4 separate regions of the Homo sapiens genome follow, and all the other regions are linked to region 1. The links come from fine-mapping of genetic effects on gene expression. A gene starts in region 1. Each other region holds a variant in brackets. All regions are shown on one strand. Distances are between the middles of the regions.

Region 1 (8,380 bases):
AGGCACGGTTGGAGGCCCCCAGCGTGGGGCTGCGTCTGCAGGGGAGGACAGGGCGCTGACACCGGGAGGCTTGTGGCGTCCGGGACGCCTCTCTGAGCCCGGTTCCTGCAGCCACCCCCAGCCAGCCGCACCTGTTGTTGCACATCCCGGTGATGGTGCGGTATTTGTCCTGCTCCGGGCAAGTCACCCCCACGTCCTGGTAGGCGCAGCCGCTTGACTTGGACAACACATTCAGCTGGGCGGGCGTCAGCACATCTGCCGGGGGAAAGAACAATGGGGGAGCTGAGCCGCCTCACTTCCTATCCCAGGCAACCTGAGGCTGAGGAGCCCTGGAGACTCCTGAGACTCCCTGGAGGAAGAAGTTGAGGGGATCACTGAGAGACGGCTGGGGTCCCTAGGAGGAGTCACTAGTGGAGCAGGGACCTGGGGTGTGATGGGCAACAGTACCAGTGACATTGAATGGCCTTCGCCACAGGGACCGCAGCTTCCTCTCCAGCAGGTCTAGAGCCACGTGCAGGTAGTCAGCGGCCCTCACCGCCGTCCTGGTGGCTGCCACCGGCTGCTTGAAGTAGGATAGGAGTTCCATGGGGCTGGCTGAGCCGCTGCGAAGCCGCTGCTTGATGCTGCTTGGAGAAAGGAGGAGTGAGGGCCAGAGAAGGGATACAGACCCACCCAGCAGAGCCCCAGCCCAGGGGCAGACATGCAGGACCATGCAGGCAGGCCCACGGGTGGGAGGAAGGCTTCCTTTTATAAAAAGGATATGGACCTGGGTGTCCAGACAGAGGCAAGGCTTTGGGAAGGATGGCTTTTAAGCTGTTCTCCCATCCAGAAACACAGGGACAGACAGACAGAAAGGGAGTCCACATGGGTCCCCATAGTCCCCCTCTCCCACCTTCAAGCTCCCTGCTGCCTGCTGCTTCTCTGAAAGGCCTGGGACATCCTTGCCCAGAGCTGGGCAGTGCCTCGTGCCCCACCTTTCCCGCCGCTCCTTGTAGGCCTTGTCCACCAGCTGCTTGGCCTCCTCCATGGAGCTCAGCACCAACGAGGTGTCCACCTCCCCCAGGACAGCTGCCCAGAGCAGGGATCACAAAGTCAGGAATGGGCCCCAACCCCCTATCAGGCCCCAGAGCTAGGAAGGCCTGCTCTGAGAAAAGGGGTCTCTGGAACACAACCACCCCAACACACCATCTTCTCCCACCTTGGGAACTGTTACCTGGAGCAGCACCTTCAGAGGGCTGGGGCGTGGCCAGAATGGCCAGGAGCCCTGCTAGGGCCAGAAGCAGCTTCATCTCTGCAGTGAGACCCCCAGCCCAGCAAGGTCCTAAGTCCACCATGCATCTGAGAGAAGAGAAGAAGGGAACCCCCATCTCTCTTCTCCTGGGCTGCTCAATCCCCCTTTGTACCTCAGCCCCACCTCAGAGGGCCCTGTCTATGGATAAAGCCAGACCTCCTTGAGGGAGGGGCTCACTGCTCTCTTATCCCCTTGCCAGCTGCTGTCATCCAGCTTCCAAGGACCCCACCTCCACAGCTCACCTGATATTGTCAGCTCCTCTTAGCTCAATCTGCGCTTTTATGTCCTCTAAGCTGGGGGTGGGGTGAGGTAGAGGAAGGTCTGATCCTGGAGACTGAACTCTTTCTCCTCCCCCACTGGGGTTGGAAGGTACACACAGAGGGGCCCCTGAAATGGGGGGAAGGGGCAGGAAAGGAGGGGCCAGCATTGTCCCCAGCCTTTTTTTTTTTTTTTTTTGAGACGTTATCTTGCTCTGTTGCCCAGGCTGATGTGCAATGGTTCAAGCGATTCTTCTGCCTCAGCCTCCCGAGTAGCTGGGATTACAGGTGCCCGCCACCACGCCCTAGCCTCTAGCCACATCATCAATTATTTCCTTAGGCAAGAAGTAATTTTTGTATTTTTCCTTAGGCAAGAAGCTAATTTTTGTATTTTTAGTAGATACAGGGTTTCACCATGTTGGCCAGGCTGGTCTTGAACTCCTGACCTCAAGTGATCCACCCGCCTCAGCCTCCCAAAGTGCTGGGATTACAGGCATGAGCCACTGGCCCCAGCCTGTCCCCAGCCTTTGAATTTAGCACTACCAGCCCAAGATTTCTCAGCTCACCATTGTGTGCCTATACCAGTGCTTGTCCCCAGGGGATACACACAACTAACCCCTCTGAAATTCTGGTTACACTGGTTATCCAGGGTTCCTTTGAAAGGAACAAAAGTCAGGAACTGGTAGCCCAAGGAATTGCAGGGAATAGAGTGCCCCCAGGGAAGACAGGAGGATGAAAGGGAGACCTGGAGTAAAGATGACCCAATTGGCCTCAGGTGGCCATCCCCCACTCCAACAGTAACCTGCATCCAACAGCCACCCAATGGGCAGCCTCTGGTTCTTGGTGGGGCTAAGGGGACAGGAAATCTGGCTGGAGACCGTTGGGCTTCACAGGAAGGAGGACCCTGGGGACTGTGGGCGCAGGACCAAGATAACTTCCTCTATCCCTCCTCACTCCCCTTTCTTCTTGGCTTCTGGTAGAGGGCTGTCTCCAAACTCCTCCTCCCCACCACCATCTGCTCCTGGATTTCAGGAACCAGGAGAGAGCAGAACTGGTTGTGGTTAGTGATCAGTTAGGTGATGCAGCCCAGGGCCTCTCTGGGACAGGATCAGTGCAGTTGGGAGGACTTGGGTTAATGATTCAGAATAATTCTGAAACAGAAGAGGATATTTCTTGCTTGAGAAAGCCCAGCAAAAGGGCCACCAATCTCAGCAGGAAAAGTACTACGACTTTTGACTGAATCAGTCTACCTCTCTGGGCCCTGGTCAGGCTGAGCTCGTGCCAACCATGCCTCCCATGTCCCATTTAGGTTCCCCCTCCTACCTTCAGCCACCTTCCCGCCACCCACTCTTTTTTTTTTTTTTTTTTTTTGAGACAGGGTCTCTCACTGTTGGCGGAGCTGGAGTACAGTGGTGCAATCTCGGCTCACTGCAACCTCTGCCTCCTGGGTTCAAGCAATTCTCCTGCCTCAGCCTCCCAAGTAGCTGGGATTACAGGCGCCCGCCACCATGCCCGGCTAATATTTTGTATTTTTAGTAGAGATGGGGTTTCAACATGTTGGCCAGGCTGGTCTCAAACTCCTGACCTCCTCCTGATCCACCCACTGTTGGGATTACAGGCGTGAGCCACCGCGCCCGGCCCACTCTTGTCTTCTATGCCCAGACCACCTCTTGGCCAAGGGACAAGGGACAGCAACACCCAGAATATCTTCCCAGTGTGTCCAGGGATTCTGTCCCCTGCTGAGAAGGGGAACCAAGCTTTTGCCCTGCCAGTGACTTGCTGTGTGTGAAGTTGGTCGAGTGGCTCTTTGTGAATCAAGCTCTAGAATTTTAGAGGCTTTTGGAAATGATTTTTCAATCCTTTAAGTAATATAATTTTCACTGATGAAAAGTTTGAGAACACGAGTATGCAAAAATAAAAATAAATCAAAATTACTCATCATCAAGTGAGATTGTGGGTACTTTTTTCTTTCAAGGTTTATCATTGTCTTCACATAAATAAACAATAGGAAGGAAAATAATTGCCCATAATCCCACCACTCACCAATACCTCATTTAAGAATTTGATATCCTATATGTAAACATAATATATATTTTTAAATATTGATAAGAAGAACTTTAAATATTGTTTTACCATCTACTTTCGGTACTTAACAATTTTAGTCTGAGCATCTCCCTGTGTCAATAAATACAGGTTTACTTCATTTTTATGTCTGTATAATATTTCATATAACTATTTTATATGATTTATTAACTAATTCTATCTCATTAGATACTTAGAGTTGTTTCTGATTTTCATTATTATAAGTAGTACTAGGATAAGCATCCATGGAGTTAAATCTCTCGCCACATCGTCAATTATTTCCTTAGGCAAGAAGTAAAATTCCTGCGTATTTGGGTATGCGTGTTTTAGGGCTTTTTAATATTGATAGTCAAATGGCCTGCTGAAGATTTTACCTCATCCTCCCATCAGCCATGCATGAGAGCACCTGTCCCCTGTCACCCTTGTCAACCTTGAGTATGCTTGAGTGTCCTTTCGCTCTTTTAAGGGAATTGTCAAGGCTCAACAGGGGAGAGATATTTAATGCAAGCCCCTTATTGTAGAGCTGAGAAAGAAGGAGCCCAGGGAAGGAAACGACTTGACCAAGGTCAGCAGTGTGACACAGTTCAGAATAATCTCCATGCCCAGTCTCCTGACTTCCAAACCAGTGCTCTTTACCCAGTAGCCTCTGGACACCTGTTCCTGACCTTTCATTCAATGATTTCTTCAACAAGTATTTACTGAGCCCTTGTCATTCAATGATTCCTTCAACAAGTATTTACTGAGCCCTTGTCAGGTGCTGCGCTGGGCATTGAGCATTCTCCACTGAGCAAAGCATGAGCCTTATCCTCAAGGAGCTCACAGAGGGGAGCAGAAAGGCAAACAAATGGCACCCCCAGAACCAATGCAGGGACCTTAGGGAGCAGCGAAGAGCAGCACTTGGATCAACTGGGGGAGGTCAGTGAAGGCTTTCTTGAGGAATTGATTCTGGAGACTGTCTTGAAGAATGTCTCAAAGCTGACCAAGTAGACACAGAGGAAGAGCATTCTGGGCCCAGAGAATGACACTGTCGGCTTCACTCAGTTCCAACACAGGGAGAGGGTGGACAGGGTGAGGCTGGTGGGCCAAGCAGAGGCCCAGGATGCAACATTCTCGCAGACCTACTGAGAAATTATTGTCCCGAAGCCCCAGGGAGTCATGAGGTCTGTGAAGCGGAAGTGCATGGTCCAAGTTACTTTGGAGAGCTCACCTGCTCTGGTTGCAGTGTGGACAGTGCGCTGGAAAGGCAGGCCCAGACACAGAGACCTGGCAGGCAGCATGTCAGCGATTCACCTGTTAAGAGGCTTGCTCTGCTTCCTCACAGGCAGCAATCAGGCCAGGAGTGTTTGAAAATACTTCTCCAAGAACGACGTTTAAACTCCCTGAGTGCTCCACCCACATAGAGGTGAGAGCACTCCCAAGATGTGGATTCCCCAAAGCCCCTGTCTTTGGCCCGGGGGTGGGTCTGGGGATGCACATGTGTGTGCCAGGGCTAGAGATGTTCTATGACTTGACATGTTTTCAACCAATTAATAATGACCCACCTGAGGTTATCCCAAGGTGGTCAGCCTCTCCTGTCTGCACCTCTGTCGTTCCCTCATCTAGGCCCTATTTGTCGGGCCAGGTGTGTTTGAGGCTCAAAGCTCTTCTCAGCATGCAGAGTAACCAGGGGAATGCAGCTCAAGGGAGTGGGAGGGATTTCAAATAAGCTTTGTCCCATGTGAGTTACCCGCCAGTCCCCTTCCTGGGGGTAGGCTCTGGAGGGCACTGCTGGGACTGCTACATCTCAAGACTATAGTCATTTGAGAGAGCTCCCCGCCTCCAACACACTCACACCCCACTGCCGTCTCTTCTGCCCACTTAGAGTTCCCAAATATCCCCACCCCCAGGGTGAAGCCCAGCTGCTGGTGGGATAACGGGCCCTCTCTGCTACTGCTTGCAAAACAGCATGTTGTTTCTTAATGCTGTTTAAGAAATAATTCAGTTGGGATTTCAGCCTGATTTCCTGTGTGTGGTTGGAGAGAAAGAGGCACCCCCAGAAGGCTATGGAAGCTGGGGAGATGGCAGAGGCAGCGGCTGCTTAGACAAACCAGTTTTACTCAGCCCATAGATCTTGTTTTATCTCTCTTTACAACTGTTTTAATTAATTTTGAATTCTATAGGTAATACCTGGATATATTTGGAAAAAAATTTAAAATTACAGACCAAGCTAAAGCTCCTTTTAGATTAGGTTATTGCATCATCCTCAGTTCCAGTCCCCTTCCTCCACTCTTCAGATGCAAACACTGTTGACATTTTTGTATTTGACCTTCCAAATCTTTTAGTAATACTTTACATTCATTCATATTTATGGATCTGTGAGAAATATTCTGTTCCCTGGTTTTTCTCCATAAATGATATTCCATTATACATATTGTTCTGCAATGTGTTTCTTTTACTCAGTGCATCTTTAGATCTATCATGTATCACTTAGAGCGTGATCTCACCTTTTTTTTTTTTTTTTTAAGTTTTTTGGTTTTTGGTATTTTTTAGAGACAGGGCCTCACTCTGCTGCCCAGGCTGGAGTGCAGTGGCACACTGCAGCCTGGAACTCTTGGACTCAAGCCATCCTCCTGACTCAGCCTCCTGAGTAGTATCACACTTTTTTAACTTACATGATATTCCTTAGTTGGCCTGTCTCTCCATTTTGTGACCATTCCTCTATTAATGGAAGCTGACATTTTAACATTGTTTTTCACTATTAAAAACAATCCCTCAGCCAGGCACGGTGGCTCATGCCTGTAATCCCAACGCTTTGGGAGGCCAAGACGGGCAAATCGCCTGAGGTCAGGAGTTGGAGACCAGCCTGGCCAACATGGTGAAACCCAGTCTCTACTAAAAATAAAAAAATTAGCCAGGCATGGTGGTGGGCACCTGTAATCCCAGCTACTTGGGAGGCTGAGACAGGAGAATCGCTTGAACCCAGGAGGCGGAGGTTGCAGTGAGCTGAGATCACACCACTGCCACTGCACTCCAGCCTGGGCAACAAAGAGCGAAACTCCATCTCAAAAAAAAAAAACAAACCAAACAAACAAACAAACAAAAAAAAAAACAATGCCTTGAGAGGCCTTGTTGTACATACACACAAGTGTTCCCCATGGTAAAAATGAAGAAGTGGACCACAGGTTTTGTTCATTTACAATTTTTAAGGCCAGATGCAGTGGCTCATGCCTGTAACCCCAGCACTTTGGGAGGCCAAGGCGGGCAGATCACCTGAGGTCAGGAGTTCAAGACCAGCCTGGCCAACATGGTGAAACCCCGTCTCTACAAAAAATACAAAAATTAGCCGGGCATGATGGTGCATGCCTGTAGTTCCAGCTACTCATGGGGCTGAGGTGGGAAAATCATTTGAATCTGGGAGGTAGAGGCTGCAGTGAGCTGAGATTGCATGATTGCACTCCAGCCTGGGTGACAGAGCGAGACTCTGTCTCAAAAAAAAATAAAAATAAAAACACTGGGCGCTGTGGCTCACTTCTATAATCCCAGCACTTTGGGAGGCTTAGGTGGGCAGATCACCTGAGGTCAGGAGTTCGAGACCAGCCTGGCCAACATGATGAAACCCCATCTCTACTAAAAATACAAAAATTAGCCAGGTGTGGTGGTGCACACCTGTACTCCCAGCTTCCTTGGGAGGTTGAGGCACGAGAATCGCTTGAACTCGGGAGGCAGAGGTTGCAGTGAGCTAAGATGGCACCACTGCACTCCAGCTTGGGTGATAGTGTGAGACTCCATCTCAAAAAAAAAAAAAAAAAAAAAATTTAAGTCCTGGCACAGTAGCTCACACCTATAATCCCAACATTTTGGGAAGCCGAGGTGGGAGGATCACTTGAGCCGAGGAGTTTGGGATCAACCTGAGCAACATAATGAGACTCTGTCTCTACAAAAAAAAAAAAAAAAAAAAAAAAATTAGCTGGGCGCGGTGATACTCCTGTAGTCCCAACGACTTGGGAGGTTGAGGCAGGAGGATCACTTCAGCCCAGGAATTCAGGGTTACAGTGAGCTATGATCACACCAGAACACTCCAGCCTGGGCGACAGAGCAAGACCCCGTATCTAATAAAATCTTAACAGATACGTATTGCTAAACTAGCCTCCAAACTTTGTAAAAATCTCATGAGCAAAGAATGGAATCATATTATTGGTTCAACTTTTATGTATTTGGTTAATAGTGAGGTTGAGCATATTTTTATTTGAATTATATCTTCTGCAACTTTCCTGTGTTTTGTTTTGTTAATTTTTCTATGGTGTTGTCACTCTTTTTATTGATTTGTAACAAGTATTCTATATTCTGGGTAAGCACTAAAGTCCTTCAGTTGTTATGTAGGTTCCAAATTTCTTTTTAGTACATCGCTTTTCATTTATGTTTTTTATAGTGTCTTAATTTCAAGGTGGTCAAATTTATCAATTTTTTTATATGGATTTTGCTTTTTGTTTTATGTATTTATTTTGGATTTCGCTCTTTCAGCTTTTTTTTTTAAGGGGCTCTTCCTTTCTTCAAGATTATAAACATATTTTCCTGTATATCCTTATAATACTTTAACACTTTGTTTTTACACTTAGGTCTCAAATCCATCTGGAATTTTGTTTGTGTGAATGGTATGAGGTGGGGAGCCATCTTTTTCTTTTTTTTTTTCCCAAACAGATAATCAGTTGTCCCAATGCCTTTAACTGAATAATCTGTCATGTCTCCACTGAATTCAGATACTAGTTTTGTC
Region 2 (8,380 bases), 990 kb after region 1:
GCAGTGACTTGTATATTTTGTTACAGCTGAAACACCTGTATGTAAGTAAGCCAAGAACATTACAAAGCACCATGTAAACAAAGGGGCAAAATAAATTCTCAAACTTATTTACTCTATTTTTTAAAAAAATAAAGGAGTAGATAATTTAGAACTATTTATTTATTTATATAATTTTTTAATTTGAGACAGAGTCTCACTCTGTCACCTAGGCTGTAGTGCAGTGGCTCAATCTTGGCTCACTGCAAGCTCCACCTCCTGGGTTCAAGAGATTCTCCTGCCTCAGCCTCCCGAGTAGCTGGGGTTACAGTTGTACGCCACCACGCCCGGCTAATTTTTGTATTTTTAGTAGAGGCAGGATTTCACCATGTTGGCCAGGCTGGTCTCGAAGTCATGACTTCAAGTGATCCACCCGCCTTGGCCTCCCAAAGTGCTGGGATTACAGGCGTGAGCAACCGCGCCCAGCCTAGAACTAACTATTTAAAATAAATTATTTTTATGTGATTTTTAAAAATATATATTATGTTTTTATTAAAAGTTCACTGTAAGCATAATTTTTTTTTCCAGTAAATATAGCAGGGCCTGGCATGGTAGCTCACGCTTGTCATTCCAGCACTTTGGGAGGCTGAGGTAGGAGAAATGCTTGTGCCCAGGAGTTCAAGACCAGCCTAGGCAATATAATGAGATTCTGTCTCTACAAAAAATTTTTAAAAAATTAGCTCGGCATGGTGGTGCATGTCTGTAGTCCCAGCTGTTTGGGAGTCTGAGGTGTGGGATCACTTGAGCCTGGGAGATCTAGGCTTCAATGAGCCATGATCCAGCCACTGTACTCTAGCCTGGGTGACAGCGAGACCCTGTCTAATATATATATATCTATATATAGTACACATAGGAGGGCAAGGAGAGAGGGAATGGAGATTTGTTATTTAATGGTATAAAGTTGGCCAGGCAAGGTGGCTCACACCTGTATTCCCAGCACTTTGAGAGGCTGAGGCAGGTGGATTGCTTGAGCCCAGGAGTTCGAGACCAGCCTGGGTGACATGGTGAAACCTCATATCTACAAAAAATACCAAAAAAAGTAGCTGGGCATGGTGGCACACACCTGTAGTCCCATCTATTACAACTCAGGAGGCTGAGGTGGGAGTATTGCCTGAGCCAGGGTCGAGGATGCAGTGAGCTTTGGTTGTGCCACTGCACTCCAGCCTGGGTGACAGTGAGACCTTATCTCAAAAAAAAAAAAAAAAAAAGGCATAGAGTTGTTTTCACTTTTGCAAAATGAAAAGACTTCTGGACTTTGGTTGCACAACAGTGTGAATATACTTAAAACCACCAAACTGTACATTTAAAAATGATTGACATTCAATTTTGCTGGGTGGCGGGGGGTGGGGGTGGTGAGAAAATAGATTTAAAAAATGATTAAGATCTTAAATTTGGCTGGTGCGGTGGCTCACACTTGTAATCCCAACACTTTGGGAGGCCAAGGTGGGCAGATCATCTGAGGTCAGGAGTTTGAGACCAGCCTGGCCAACATGGTGAAACCACATCTCTACTAAAACTACAAAAAATTAGCTGGGCATGGTGGTGTGCGCCTGTAATCTTAGCTACTTGGGGGGCTGAGGCAGGAGAATTGCTTGAACTCAGGAGGCAGAGGTTTCAGTGAGCCGATATTGTGCCACTGCACTCCAACCTGGGTGACAGAGTGAGACTCCGTCTCAAAAAAAAAAAAAAAAAAATCTTAAATTTTGTGTTATGTGTATTTTAGCACAATTAAAATTATATATATATGTATGTCTATCTTGTATTTTTAAAGTTTTGGGATATTGAGCATATTTTCCAATAGAAACTTAAAATGGTGGTTAGATTCTTGGATTAGTTTACAAATCCTATTTATATTTTATATTTGATTCATAACATAGCTAAAAGATGACACATTTGCAACAGTATTGATATGTATCTATATATACTCATATATAGAGATATATAGCTACATATTTTTTAAACAGGAGTAAAGTTACTGAATATTCCATATATTCATCTTTTCATTTTGTTCCATTGGATTCTGACATGTTTAGTCTTTAGCTGTAAGTACTGTAACCAACGCAGAAGTGGTATTGCAAAAGCAGAGACGGTAATAGAGAAATTTTAGTAACATCATTATACTATGAGGCTCCAAGATCAATCCTGACCCATTTATCAAGGACTAGCCACTATTAAGTGTGGTGTTATTTGCAAATGAATATTCATAATCCCAGGAATGCTTGTAATAGATTTCAACACATTGTCTTGGGAAATACTGAGAGTTGTGAAGTAATCCTCTTTATTTGAGCAGTTGTAAAAATAACATGTAATATTGCTTGTGTCTTTTAGAATTCAGATATTCCTATACTCTTCAGTCTACAACGTGTCCTGCTCATTCTTGGCCTTTTCTTCACTGGCCTCTTGCCCTTTGTGCCCATTCGAGAACAGTTTTTTGAAATCCCAATGCCTTCTATTATACTGAAGTAAGTGGTTACCCTTTTATTTTAAAATCAATTATCAATTACAGAAAGACTAAGATAAAAGCTCACTAATATCAATATCAATGATGAAGAAGAGATTTCTGTAGTGATTTCCATGTTCTATTACCTGACCTATATTATGCATTTTTATATAATTAAGACACATTCTCTAAAACAAATAATCAGGACCCATCTCAGATTATGATTTTCTGTGCCTGTATAGTCAGAAATCAGATAAAAGGAATTTAATTTAATTACAGAAGGTAAATAATTATTTTATTCTCACATCAAATAGCAGTTGCCCTCCACTTTCCCTTATTGCTTTCTACTTCATTGACAGCTTTACCCAGCTCAAATTCCATTAAACTCCAAATTAAACAATGGTATTACTGTAATACATTTAGGAAGAAAAAACCACCACCACCATAAAAACCTCTGGAGATAGGAAAATAAAAGGGTATAGTTAGTTTATATAGGATACTGTTTTTATAGTGGTTTTTTGTTTTTTTTTTTTTGAGATGGAGTTTTGCTGTTGTGGCCTAGGCTGGGGTGCAAAGGTGTGATCTCGACTCACTGCAACCTCTGCCTCCCGGGTTCAAGTGATTCTCCTGCCTCAGCCTCCCGAGTAGCTGGGATTATAGGCGCCCACCACCTTGCCTGGCTAATTTTTGTAGTTTTAGTAGAGATGGGGCTTCACCATGTTGGTCAGGCTGGTCTCCAACTCCTTACCTCAGATGATCCACCCACCTCCTCCCAAAGTGCTGGGATTATAGGCGTGACCCGCCTTGCCCAGCCAGGATCCTTTTATATTTACGTAATTCCACTACTAGAAAAGCCTTGCATTTCACTTGCTAATTTACTAGCAAGATAAAAATACATAGATTGTAAAAATACATAGGTACATAAAAACACTTAGATTGCCTGACAAATACTAAGCACTCAAGAGTGATAGCTTTTATTGTTATCTTTGTTATTATAAAGAATGATAGCTTCATCTCAAAATTCTACACACGTAGAATGTGATTTCTAGCTGTAGATTCATAACTGAATTATGGCAAAGGAATTTGGAATCGTTGGGGAGATGATTTAAATGTGATTTTATTTGCATGAAAACACTTTTCATGGCCGGGCGCGGTGGCTCACGCCTGTAATCCCAGCACTTTGGGAGGCCAAGGAGGGTGGATCACGAGGTCAGGAGATCGAGACCATCCTGGCTAACACGGTGAAACCCCGTCTCCACTAAAAATACAAAAAAAAATTCTCCGGGCGTGGTGGCGGGCGCCTGTAGTCCCAGCTACTCCGGAGGCTGAGGCAGGAGAATGGCGTGAGCCTGGGAGGCAGAGCTTGCAGTGAGCGGAGATTGCGCCACTGCACTCCAGCCTG[G/A]GCGACAGAGCGAGACTCTGTCTCAAAAAAAAAAAAAAAAAAAAAAAAGAAAAGAAAACACTTTTCATATCCAACAGAACTTTAAAAAATCAAGCTGAAGAGCTTTCCTCTTTTATAGCATGTCTCAATAAAGGTAATGACTTGGGGGAAAAAAATAAAGCTGAACGTTAGTGTAGCAGTCATCAGACAATATTGCTAAGAAAAGCAGGCCAGGTGCAGTGGCTCACGCCTGTAATCCCAACATTTTGGGAGGCCGAGGCAGGAGGATCACGAGGTCAGGAGTTTGAGACCAGCCTGGCCAACATGGTGAAACCCCATCTCTACTGAAAATACAAAAATTAGCCAGGCTCGCCTGAACACGGGGGGCAGAAGTTGCGGTGAGCCAAGATCGCGCCACTGCACTCCAGCCTGAGCGACAGAGCGAGACTCCTTCTCAAAAAAAAATAAGAAAGAAAAACAATTGGCCGGGCGTGGTGGCTCATGCCTGTAATCCCAGCACTGTGGGAGGCTGAGGCGGGTGGATCACAAAGTCAGGAGTTCAACACCAGCCTAGCCAACATGGTGAAACCCCGTCTCTACTAAAAATACAAAAATTAGCCGGGCACAGTGGCAGACACCTGTAATCTCAGTTACTCGGGAGGCTGAGGCAAGAGAGTCGCTTGAACCCCAGAGGTGGAGGTTGCAGTGAGTCGAGATGGCTGCACTCTAGCCTGGGCGACAGAGCAAGACTCTGTCTCAAAAAAGAAAAGAAAAGAAAAACAATTTAGTCAGTACTCTTGTGCTCAACTTCTATTTCATGCCTGTTTTCCAATTTCAGTATCTTAGTGATAAACATGTTTATTTTATTTATTCCTAAATTATATTTATGAACATCTTTGTAGCTGTTTCTCAGACAAAACAATAGAAAACGCTTCTTGTCTACCCCCCCCCCCAAAAAACACCCTATTTTATTTGCTAGATTAAAATGATCCCTAAACATTTATTCCTGGCTGGGCCAGGGGCTCCTGCCTGTAATCTCAGCACTTTGGGAGGCAGAGGCAGGCGGATCACCTGAGGTCGGGAGTTCCATACCAGCCTGGCCAACATGGTGAAACTCCCATCTCTACTAAAAATACAAAATTAGCTGGGCATGGTGGCGCACATCTGTAATCCCAGCTACTCAGGAGGCTGAGGCAGGAGAATCGCTTGAACCCAGAAGGTGGGGGTTGCAGTGAGCCGAGATAGCGCCATTGCACTCCAGCCTGGGTGACAGAGCAAGACTCTGCCAATAAATAAATAAATAAAACATTTATTCCTAAAGTACTTAGCTTTCCTCTGGCCTGGAGTGGACTGTTTGCTCTATATTTATCTTCATATGTTCCTTTTAGAAGCAAATATTGTTGAAATACAGACATAAGAACAAACTCCACAGAATTAATATTTTCTCTAAAAAGTGATTATGGATTAAGACACAAGCAGGATATATTTTGTGTGTTTTAATACTTCTATAGAAGACAATGGATATTTTCTAAGACAATATAGTGATTGTTTAATGAGGTAATCAGTATTTGAGCTACTAAATCCCTAATATTCCTGAAATTGCAACCAGGACTTTCCACTGGGGCCAGAGTTAGGGAAAAAAGGACTTGTACTTTATTTTGTACTTTTTTTTTTTTTTGAGACAGAGTTTTACTTTGTCACCCAGGCTGGAGTGCAGTGGCGCAGTCTTGGCTCACTGCAACCTCTGCCTCCTGGGTTCAAGCAGTTCTCCTGTCTCCGGCTCCTGAGTAGCTGTGATTACAGGTGTGCGCCACCATGCCCGGCTAATTTTTATGTTTTTAGTAGAGACGGGGGGGGGTTTCACTATGTTGGCCAGGCTGGTCTGGAACTTCTGAACTCAGGTGATGCACCAGCCTCAGCCTCCCAAAGTGCTGGGATTACAGACATGAGCCACCATGCCTGGCCTACAGATATTTTAAAGGAAAGGAAAACACGTGGTAAACTGCTCACTTTGATCTATAATACAGTTCCGTTGTATGTTTAAATTTGCCACATACTAAATTGTAGGAGACAAAGCAGGAGAAAGATTTCACCAAAAAAGAAACGAGATATGAGCCTAGGGCACCAGGGTCTCTGGAAAGACAATATTTATTTATTTATGTATGCATTTATTTATTTATTTATTTATTTATTACTTTTGAATAGGGATGGCAAAAAGTTAGCTTGAGACCAGTGCAAACAGAACCCAACTGGCCTTTATTTTATTTTTGTCCTTTTTACAAATATTTTTTGAGAATATACAAAGTACAAGGCACTGTTTTCATTTTTGAATTTGTTTCATTTTATCACACTGATATATTTCTGTGTTTCTAATTTGTAATTCAAACTTTATTTTACCCTAGGCTAAAAGAACCACACACCATGTCCAGAAGTCAAAAGTTTCTCATCTGGCTTTCTGATCTGTAAGAATTTTAATTTCTTAATATGCAAGTTATTGCTTCAGCTATATTTATTAAATACTACCCTTAAAATGTTGTGCAAGCTTTCCACATGTAATTTGTAACAAGGACAAATTGAGCACCTGCTATGTAAAATGTGTATGAATCATTTAGAAATATCTTAATTACTAATCACAAAATCTTAGGAAGAATCTTGAGAGATAATGTCCTCCAACTTCATGAGAAAACTGAGCCCCCATATACCCAGTTAAATTATTTACTTGGGGTTATCTAGCTAGTTAGTAGCAGAACTAGGTTAAATAACCATTCCCTTTAGCTTACTTGCTGGTGAAAAGAAGTGTAGCAACACAGTATATATAAAAGTGTATGTTGCCTACAGCACATTTCTCAGAAAAATTTGCTCTGCACCAAGACTTAACAGCAGAAAGGAAATCCCACCTATAGAGTGGATATCAACTTTAAAGTAAATGCCTTAATTTAGACATGATGAGTTTAATTTTAGTAAAAATCACTAAATAATTGTACTATATTTTGCTTTAAGATGGAACCTTGAATGCTTAAATATTTTAATAGTCCCAAATCACAACTTTTTATTATTTAACGCCTTTTCTTCTTATTTTATTTTATTTTATTTTATTTTATTTTATTTATTTATTTATTCATTTTTTGAGATGGAGTCTTTCTCTGTCGCCCAGGCTGGAGTGCAGTGGTGTGATCTCGGCTCACCGCTTCCTGGGTTCAAGTGATTCTTCTGCCTCAGCCTCCCGAGTAGCTGGAACTATAGGTGCCTCCCACCATGCCTGGTTAGTTTTTGTATTTTTTAGTAGAGATGAGGTTTCATCATGTTGGCCAGGCTGATCTCGAACTCCTGGCCTCATGTGATCTGCCCACCTCAGCCTCCCAAAGTGCTGGGATTACAGGTGTGAGCCACCGCGCCCAGCCTTAACGCCTTTTTCAAAGAGTCTTAAACAATTAGTTTTATCTTTTCTCTCTGTCAGTGTTTATTCTTTTTTGCTTTATTCTTGATTTAAGCTCTAGTTTTCAAGGATGCCTTTTTTTTGTACTCAAGTAAAACCAGGATGCATTTTTTTTCTTTTTTCAACCCTATTAACTGACAAGATGCATTGTTAATTGGTGTTAAAAGCACATGATTTCTAGTTTCTGTTATTTAATCATTCTAATAGACATAACAGAATAGAAATAATGTCTTTCCAGTGCAATGAATTCCTATCTTGCTCAAGAGGTTTGTATTTTGAAAGTTCACTTATCAGTGAGTTACTTGGAACAAAAAAATATTTTTTCCCTAGACATAGGATAGTGTAATTAATGGACATAATGCTTCTAACATCGCTTACAAAAGACTAATCCATTGTGTAATGAACTATGATGTTATAGAAATTGACCTGCATTTGTTGACTTATTTTAACTTGGAAAGTTAGGAACACACATTAATAGTAAGAAAGGAAAGCCAGCTCTTTCTCCTTCTTCAGCAGTGAAAATGAGGCAGCCTCTTTTCCATTGAGCTGTGCCAACAAGAATGGGTCTCCTATGAATCTGGTAGCAGCAAGAAGTAGAAAGGAGGTTCTGGTTGTCCACCAACCAGCAGCCTGCAGTGAAAGGAGATCCAGCAATTAAGACATAAATTAATTCACAACAGCTATTATTACTTGAGACCATTTCTTTTATTGCTGAAGCATTGGGATTAAATTAAACTGGAATTACTAAACTCTAAATTGACTAAATTAGGACTAAGGACTAAATTCCTAAATCAGTTTTGCTTTTTCTTTTCTAGCTTACTAATGAGGAAAGCTTTGTTTGACCACCTAACTGCTCGAGGCATTCAAGTAAGTTTCTGGAATGATGCATTTTGGAAGCAGCATAGCTCACCAGTTTAACACAAATATAAAGGGCAAGAACTTTTAACTGACTTAGTTTGGCCCTTGACTCTGATGCTGCTGCTTTACTGATCCACAAATGAGGACCTTAAGCTCTTCCTTACACTTAGCAATAAAGCATTGGCATTTCTGGATCTAGATTCCTCTTATGTACAGAATAGCTGATGCC
Region 3 (4,000 bases), 26 kb after region 1:
GGCCCAGGGGGCCTAGGTAATCTACTCAAGGTTACACAGCTAGAAGCAGCAGAGTCAGGTCCAAACCCATGTCATCTGCTCTAGAAGCCATGTTCTCCACCATGATTCTGTGCTACCTCCAGTGGAGGAAAGGAGGGAGGAGGGAAGACCCAGCTGGTGTTTGGAATTCTGAGCCCTGATGGCGAATCAGTCACCTTCAGGATCTGACCCTCTCGGAAGGGAAGCTCTTCTTCTCCAGCATCAGGATTGGGCGACATTGACACGGGGTCATAGTCAAACAGAGCCACAAAGATCCTGACGGGTAGGTGCTGGTAAGCCAGTGTTTCTGAGGGGCTCCTCGCAGGGACTGTGGAGACAGTGGAGAGGGCGGTGACGCAGCGAGCTCTGGCCGAGCAGCTCTAGCTCCAGCCCCATCAGGTGCTCACCTAGCTCTGCAGTGCTTGGCCTGAGGACTCGGACACCTCTCTTCTGGGGGCCCCTCCGCCCAGAGCCGTCCTGCCCTCTGGCCTCTCCGGTCTCTGTTGCCTGCAAAAAGAGGGCAACAGATGGCAAAAGTAACACACCATCCCTCTGGTGGGCTCGTGCTCCCCCAGCTCTGCCCCATCAGCGTAAGCAGCACAGCAGCGCAGGAGCACAGCATTCCTCTCCCGGAGCCTCGGCCCAGCCTGCTGGAGACCTCAGACACCCCCACAGTGGGAGGGAGGGCAGGAGGGGAGGCCCCAGCCCCAGCCTGCGAGTAGATGAATGGAGTAGAGGGGACTGGAGTTGGCTGAGGAGCCCGCGAGAGGAGGGCCTCCCGTCAGCATCAGGGCAGGTAACCCTGGACATGGCATCACAGTCAGCGTCCTGAAGCCATTACTAGCTATGCAGAGGAAAGGGCGACCCTGCCCACAGGCCGCAACAGGCGACTAGTGATAGAATATTGTGCATCCCAGTCCTGATCAGCAGAAGCAGCAAAGCAGTGGAATGTGGGTGGGAGGAGGCAGGTGAGGGAGCCCGGAGGCCCGGCCCCACCTCTGCTGATGGAGGCAGGCAGCGTGGAATGGGAGCTGCTGGTGGGCAGCAAGCAGGGCCACCAGGTGGCAGCAGGCAGGGGCTGCCCAGGGCGGGGAGTGAGCACGGACCCGGGAGAGTGGCTCCTTGGCTCTGCCCGTCGCACTGCGGCCTCTCCGCTCTGGTTCCCCTTTCTCCCAGGCTGGGAGGCGTGGGTAGGGCTTGGGGCCTGAATTGGCCTTCGGAGGCCCCCTGGGCCTTCCTACAGTTGCTGTGCCCCAGGCCTCCCCATCTCCAGGGTAGCAGGAGCTGGTGATGCTGATGCCCCCGCTGCCCGCCTCCTGCTCATCCTCCGAATCATATTCAATGCTGATTTCCAAGCACTTGGGGGAAAGGCAGCTGGCCAGGCCAGGCTCCAGCGCCCGGCCACGGGAGCACCTCCGGGAAGGGCCCAGCCGGCCTCTCCCGCTAGCCTCTAGTCCAGTCCTGGGGCCCTCAATTACGGGGAGGCCACCCCTCTCCCGTGTGGGGCCCAGTCGTCCAGAGGCCTGGGGCCCATTGTTGCTGAGAAGTCGGCTGCAGTGTTCTCGGGGATCTGGAGGCCGCCTGCGGCTTGGGGGCTTCTCAGGGGAGCCCCCTCCTCTCCTCCGGCTGCTTCCACCAACTAATCCAGGCATGTCTTCCAGGCAGTCTCCAGCCCTGGAGGACTCAGGAGACAAGGGACACTGGCCAGGTCTTCGGGGCTGACCACTGTCACAGCCCAGCCCCAGCAATGCAGGTTCAGGCGGGCCAGGGTCTCGGGAAGAACAGCCTGCCCCTGACTTCTCCTCCTCCTC[G/GTCCTCCTCT]TCCTCCTCTTCCTCTTCCTCCTCCTCCGGGATGCTAAAGAGCTTCTTGCTACAGAACTGCTGGAGGGGCAGCTCCAGGATCTGCTCCAAGATCTCCTCATCGCTGTCAGTCTCACAAAAGGGGTCGGGCTGGGACTGGTGGAGGTGGGGAGGTGGGAGTAGAACACAGCAGGGAAGAGAGATGCGTGGGGAAGAGGAGAGCGAGCTGCGATCTTTGCCCTCAAACGAAGGCAGGGGTTACGGACAACCCCACAGCCCTCCCACGGCTTCCTCCGAGAGGAGAGAACCAGAGGGACGGTGGCTGGCCCAAATTCACACACATATCCAGTGAGAGCCAAAGGAAGAATTAGGGAACACACTCTAGGAACCATCACCAGCCCCTGTGGGACAGGAGCATTGAGGAGCAGGCCTCCCCATCCCCTCCCCAGAAGCTACCAGCACAAGGATCTTAGGTGGCACCGGCCTCCCCTGGCCAGGGCGCTGTATCTGGTGGGCTGGAGGGAGAGAAGGTACAGAAATGAACTCCTCCCCTTCCCCTTTCTTTCCAGGAGGGCAGGGGCCAATCCTGGGGCACTTCCTATCTTCTGCTTAGGACAGGGCCCAGGCCACAGACCTAGAATGTTTCTGGCACTCAGTGGTGGTCAGAGCACCTGCTGACACACAGTGGGGAGGCCCCGGAGTTTGAGGCCTGGGGCCCAACAGCCCATCCCTACCCCGTTACCTTGGCCCCATTCTCCCTGATGCTGTTGCCAGCAACCTGCTTCTGGAAGGAGCAAGTCCTGGAACCCAGCTCCTCTTCCTCCTCCTCCTCCTCCTCTTCCTCTTCCTCCTGGATGTCTGACAGGTCTGAGTTGCGGCCGTGGTCCACGAGGGAGTTCACCAGATGAACCCCAAGCTCTGCTGTGTCCTCCTTCTGCAAGAAGTGAGGCAAGGCAGGAGAGATAAGGACAGTGAGGGGGCACAGGGGGTTCCAGGCAGGGTCAGCCCCAGCCACAGTAACAAGGGTCCTTTGGCAGAGGGAGAAAGAGCCATGTCCTAAATGGGGGAGGCACACCATGGCTCAGGGGCAGGGTGGGAGAAGGGAGATGGGAGCCACATGGGACAGAGAAATCCTAGAAGAAAAACAGACACATAGCACAGCCAAAGGTGTGAGAGCAGGACCAGAGCAGAGGACAGGCAGAGAGGGCAACTGGATTTGCGCTGGCAAAAGGTAGGGAGACAGGCCTCAATTCTCTGAAGTGACACAGTGTGTCCCCAAACCCCTACCTCAGCCCTGGGCCTCAGCCCAGACCCTGGGTCTCCTCCTTGGCACATCTCGGTATTTGGCGCCTGCTGGGCCCGTGCTCCCTGGGTGGAGCTGGAGGCCGGACAGGCCTCTCCTGCAGTCCACTCGGCCTCCTGCTTGGCCAGTGAGGGAGCTGCGGGGCCAGGGTCCTTCTCACCCAGGGTAGATGTGCTGGCTGTCCTCTCCTCTGAGGTGCCCAGCACTGCTGCCCCAGCCTCCTCCTGGAACAGAGAGCACTGAGGAAGGACCCAAGCCCAGGTCCCTCTGCCAGCCTGCACCTGCTCCCCTCTCCCCAGACAGGGTACCTGGGAGCAAGGTGCTGGAGGGTCCTCGTGGGACCCTTTTGCCATCTCTCTGGAAGGGCTTGCAGGGGGTGCTCCTGGAGGCTCTTGAGTTCCAAGGGGAGCAGGGTGCTGGAGAGGAGAGCTGGGGTCTCCAGGCCCTGGGGAGGCTGAAGCAAGGGGCGCTCTGGCCTCTGGGCTTGGGTGCGGTGAGGGGCAGGAGACTCGGGCTGGCAGGCTGGCCGGAGCCAGGGCGGGAGTGATAGGAGCCGGGATGGAGTCCGCCGACTCCCCGTGGGGCGACATGGTGCGCACGACCACCTCACGACACACCTGCAGCAGCTGCAGCTGGGACAACTCCACCAGTACACTGCCTGCCGTGGGTGAGGCCACCTCCATGATCTGCAGGGTGGAGGGGGCACAGGATGGGAAGCAGAGGCTGAGACAGCCAAGCGTGAGGATGCACTGACAGCAGTGGCAGCTAACTGACAGCAGTGGCAGCTAGCATTACGCCAGGTACTGTGCTAAGCCCTCTGCATGGCCTATCTCATTTCATCCTCCTGGCCATATGGCTTCAGTGATGGAACAGTTCTAAAATCTGTCAT
Region 4 (4,000 bases), 23 kb before region 1:
GTGGGGGTTTTTTTTTTCATCCTCTTAAGAAGGTCTTTTGTAGAGCAAAAGCTTTTAATTTTAATGAAGTTCTTTTAATCAAATTTTCCTTTCCTGGATTGTGCATGTGATGTCAAGTCTCAGAACTTTTTTCCTAGTCCTAGGTCCCAAAGACTTTCTCCTGCTTTTTCCTTCTAGAAGTTTTATAGTTTTATGTTTTACATTTAAGTCTATGATCCATTTTGGGTAAATTTTTGCATAAAGTGTGAGGTTTAGGTCAAGATGCTTTTTTAAATTTTTTCTGGCTATGGATGTCAAATTGCTCCAGCACCACTTATTGAAAGGCTATTGTTTCTCCATTGAATTGCTTTTGTTTCTTTGGTAAAAAATATTTGGGCATATTTACATGGATCTATTTCTGGGTTGTCTATTCTCTTCCATTGGTTTGTATGTATGTCTATTCCTCTCATACCACAGTGCTCAATTACTATAGCTATACAGTAAGCCTTAAAACACTTTATTCTTCTTTTTCAAAATTGTTTTGGATATTCTAGGATCTTTCCCTTTCCATACATATTATTAAATAAGTTTGTGTATGTCTATCAAAAAACCTTATGGAAATTTTGATAGAAATTGCATTAAAATTATATATACATTTAGGGAGAGTTGACATCTTTACAATGTTGAGTTTTCCAATCCATAAACTAAGTATGTCTCCCCAATCTTTAGATTTTTTATTTCTTTAATCAACATTTTGTAGTTTTATCACACAGATTCTGTACATGTTTTGTTAGATTTATACCTCAGTATTTAATTTTCATTTTGTTTTGTTTTGTTTTGAGACGGAGTCTTGCTCTGTCACCAGGCTGGAGTGCAGTGGCACGATCTCGGCTCACTGCAACCTCCCGGGTTCAAGTGATTCTCCTGCCTCAGTCTCCTGAGTAGCTGGGATTACAGGCGCCCGCCACCATGCCCGGCTAATTTCTGTATTTTAGTAGAGACAGAGTTTCACCATGTTGGCCAGAATGGTCTCAATCTCTTGACCTCGTGATCCGCCCACCTCAGCCTCCTGAAGTGCTGGGATTACAGGCGTGAGCCACCATGCCCAGCCCAGTATTTCATTTTCTTTGGAGGAATTATAAATGGTATTACAGCTTTATTGCAGTTTCTACTTATTTTATCAGTGTATGAAAATATAATTGATTTTTTTATGTGTTGATTTTGTATCCTGTGACCTTGCTAAATTCAATTAGTTCTAGGCATTCTGCTGTAGATTACTTGGATTTTCTAAACAGGTAATCATGTAATATGCCAATAAAGACAGTTGTGTTTCTTCTTTTCTAATCCATATGATTTTTCTTTCTTTTTCTTGCCTTATTACGTGGCAATTCCTGGAACTTCCTAGTGGCTCAAACTTCCAATACTATATTAAATGCGCATGGTAAGAAAGCAGGCATCCTTGTCTTCCCAATCGAGAAAGTATTCAATCTTTCACCATTAAGTATAAGATTAGTTATAAATGTTTTGTAGTTGCCCTTTATGAGGTTGAGGAAGTTCTGCTTCATTCCTAGTGTAATGAGAGTTTTTATCATGAACAGGTGTAGAACTTTGTCAAACGGTTTTTCTGCATCAATTGATAGGATCATATGATTTTTATCCTTTAAACTATACTGCTTGCTTTGGATTTATTTTGCTCTTATTTTTCAAGTTTCTTGAAGTAGAAACTTAGATGACTGATTTGCAATCTTTTCTATTTTCTAATGTATTTAGTACTATAAATTTCCCTCTTAGCACTGAGTTGACTGCCTCCCACAAATTTTGATATATTGTGTTTTTATTTTCATTCAGTAGGTATTTTTTAAGTTTCCTTT[C/T]GGACTTCATCTTTAACCTATGTATAATTTAGAAGAGTGTTATTTAATTTCCAAGCGTTTGTAGATTTTCCTGTTGCCTTCCTGATTTCTAGTTTGATTCCATCATGATCAGAAACTATACTCTGTATGATTTCAATTTTAAATTTGTTAAGATTTGTTTTATAACCCTGCTGTGGACTATCTTGTTGAATATTCTGTGAGTTCCTAAAAAGAATGTGTATTCTGCTGTTGTTGAATGCAATGTTCTGTAAATGTCAGTTGGATCTGTTGGTTGATGGTGCTATTCAGTCTGTACTCCAGCTAATTTTCTGTCTAGTAATTCTCCCACTTACTGAGAGTCAGGTGTTGAAATCCCTAGCTATAAATGAGAATTTGCCTATTTCTTCTTCCAGTCCTGTCAGGTTTTGCTTCATGTATTTTAAAGCTTTAAAGTTCTGTTGTTTGATCCATATCATTTAGGATTGCTTCATCTTCTTGATGGATAGATCCTTTTATCATTATGTAATTTCCACTTTTGTCCTCTGAAGTCAACTTTATCTGATATTAATATAGTCACCCCTGCTTTTAAAAATTTATGTCTGCATGATCTTTCTTATTCCATCAATTTCAACCTACCTATGTCATTATGTTTGAAGCGAGTTTCTTTTAGACATCATATAGTTGGGTCACTTAAAAAAAAAAAGGAAAAGAAATATACTCTGCCAATCTCTGACCTTTAGTAATTAGTACTTTTAAATTATCTTTAAAATAATTATTAACATGTTAGGGATTAAATCTCCCATATCTCTCATTTTATTACTTGTTTTCTGTTTGTTCCTTCTGTTTCTTCTTCCTCTAATATTGTTTTTCTTGCCTTCCTGTGGGTTAATTGAACATTTTTTAGAGGTCCATTTGATCACATATTGCTTTGTATAATTTTCTTAGTGGTTGTTCTCCGGATAGATAGGTAGATAGATATAGAAATAAAGATAGAGAGAGAGATAGAGATATGGATTTACAACGTATCACAACCTATTGGTGTCAGTGCTTTATCATTTCAAGTGACATGTAGAAAACTCATTTCCATTTGGTCCCTTCACCTTCCCCACTTTTGAAATATAATTGTCTGAAGCATTTCTTCTATATATGTTTTATAGCACATCAGATGGTGCTTCAACCATAAAATATAATGAAAAAATTCATGAGGTGGAAAAGAATTGATGTTTACTTCTATTTTTACCCATTACATTGTTCTTCTTTCCTTTCTGAAGGTCCTGTCCTTCTTCTATTACCATTCTTCATGTTTAGAGAGTTTCCTTTAGCCATTGTTTAAGGATAGGTCTGTGTGCAGCAAATTCTCTGAGTCTTCCTTTGTGTGAGAATGTCTTTATTTCTCCTTTATTCCTGAAGAATCGTTCCACCAGCTATTGGATTCAGGGTTGGTAGTTCTTGTCTTTCGGCACATGAAAAATGTGGCGACACTTCCCCTGGCTTCTGTGGTTTCAGATGAGAGCTTCACCGATATTTTGTTTGTTTGTTTATTTCTTTGTTTCTTTGAGACAGAGTCTTGCTCTGTTGCCCAGGCTGGAGTGCAGTGGCAACATCTCGACTCACGGCAACCTCCGCCTCCCGGGCTCAAGCGATTCTCTTGCCTCAGCCTCCCGAGTAGCTGGGATTACCGATGCTCACCACCACACCTGGATAATTCTTTTTGTATTTTTAGTAGAGACAGGATTTCACCATGTTGGCCAGGCTAGTCTCAAACTCCTGACCTCAGATGATCCACCCGCCTCAGCCTCCCAAAGTGCTGGGATTGCAGGCGTGAGCCACCACACCCAGCCCTTTACCATTACTTGAATTGGTGTTTCTTTATAGGTAATGTGTCATTTCTCTTTGACTATTTTAATACTTTATGTTTAGTTTTCAGAAATTTAATTATGATATGCCTTGGAGTGAATTTCGCTGTTTATCCTGTTTGGGATTCATTCATCTTCTTGAATCTGTAAATGTGTGCCTCTCACCAATTTTGAGAAATTTTCAGGCATTATTTATTCAAATCCTTTTTCAGTTTCACCCCCTTTCTCCTCTGTTTCTGGAACTCCATTGATATGAATGCCAGATCTTTTGTTATGGTCTCACAGAACCCAGAGGCTCTGGTTTGTTTGAGCAAT

Evidence for each region. PIP is the estimated chance that this variant, and not a neighbour inherited with it, causes the effect.
Region 2: its variant is fine-mapped to the expression of MPO in whole blood (INTERVAL, PIP above 0.99).
Region 3: its variant is fine-mapped to the expression of MPO in whole blood (INTERVAL, PIP above 0.99).
Region 4: its variant is fine-mapped to the expression of MPO in whole blood (TOPMed, PIP 0.99).

Annotation. Positions count from the first base shown.
Region 1 is chr17:58,279,392-58,287,771 of GRCh38, forward strand. It overlaps MPO (myeloperoxidase), which reads right to left and starts at 1,544. Exons shown (of 12, transcript NM_000250.2): 1 at 1,214-1,544; 2 at 975-1,068; 3 at 448-623; 4 at 132-255; 5 at 1-35. The coding sequence starts at 1,367. RefSeq lists promoters at 1,534-2,128, 1,534-1,674, 2,067-2,468, 2,353-2,578, 2,624-2,824 and enhancers at 2,477-2,494, 4,871-5,486, 5,399-5,655.
Region 2 is chr17:59,264,677-59,273,056 of GRCh38, forward strand. GDPD1 (glycerophosphodiester phosphodiesterase domain containing 1) reads left to right here. Exons shown (of 10, transcript NM_182569.4): 7 at 2,365-2,498; 8 at 6,260-6,319; 9 at 8,109-8,160. Among named protein-coding and RNA genes, the nearest start is that of GDPD1, 48 kb to the left of the region's middle. The variant G/A (reference allele first, on the strand shown) is at 3,879.
Region 3 is chr17:58,307,417-58,311,416 of GRCh38, forward strand. It overlaps TSPOAP1 (TSPO associated protein 1), which reads right to left. Exons shown (of 32, transcript NM_004758.4): 19 at 3,420-3,797; 20 at 3,096-3,335; 21 at 2,551-2,742; 22 at 1,125-1,964; 23 at 426-525; 24 at 195-346. Among named protein-coding and RNA genes, the nearest start is that of TSPOAP1-AS1, 16 kb to the right of the region's middle. RefSeq lists an enhancer at 2,119-2,818. The variant G/GTCCTCCTCT (reference allele first, on the strand shown) is at 1,830.
Region 4 is chr17:58,259,023-58,263,022 of GRCh38, forward strand. The region is part of intron 9 of LPO (lactoperoxidase); the gene reads left to right. Among named protein-coding and RNA genes, the nearest start is that of MPO, 20 kb to the right of the region's middle. The variant C/T (reference allele first, on the strand shown) is at 1,851.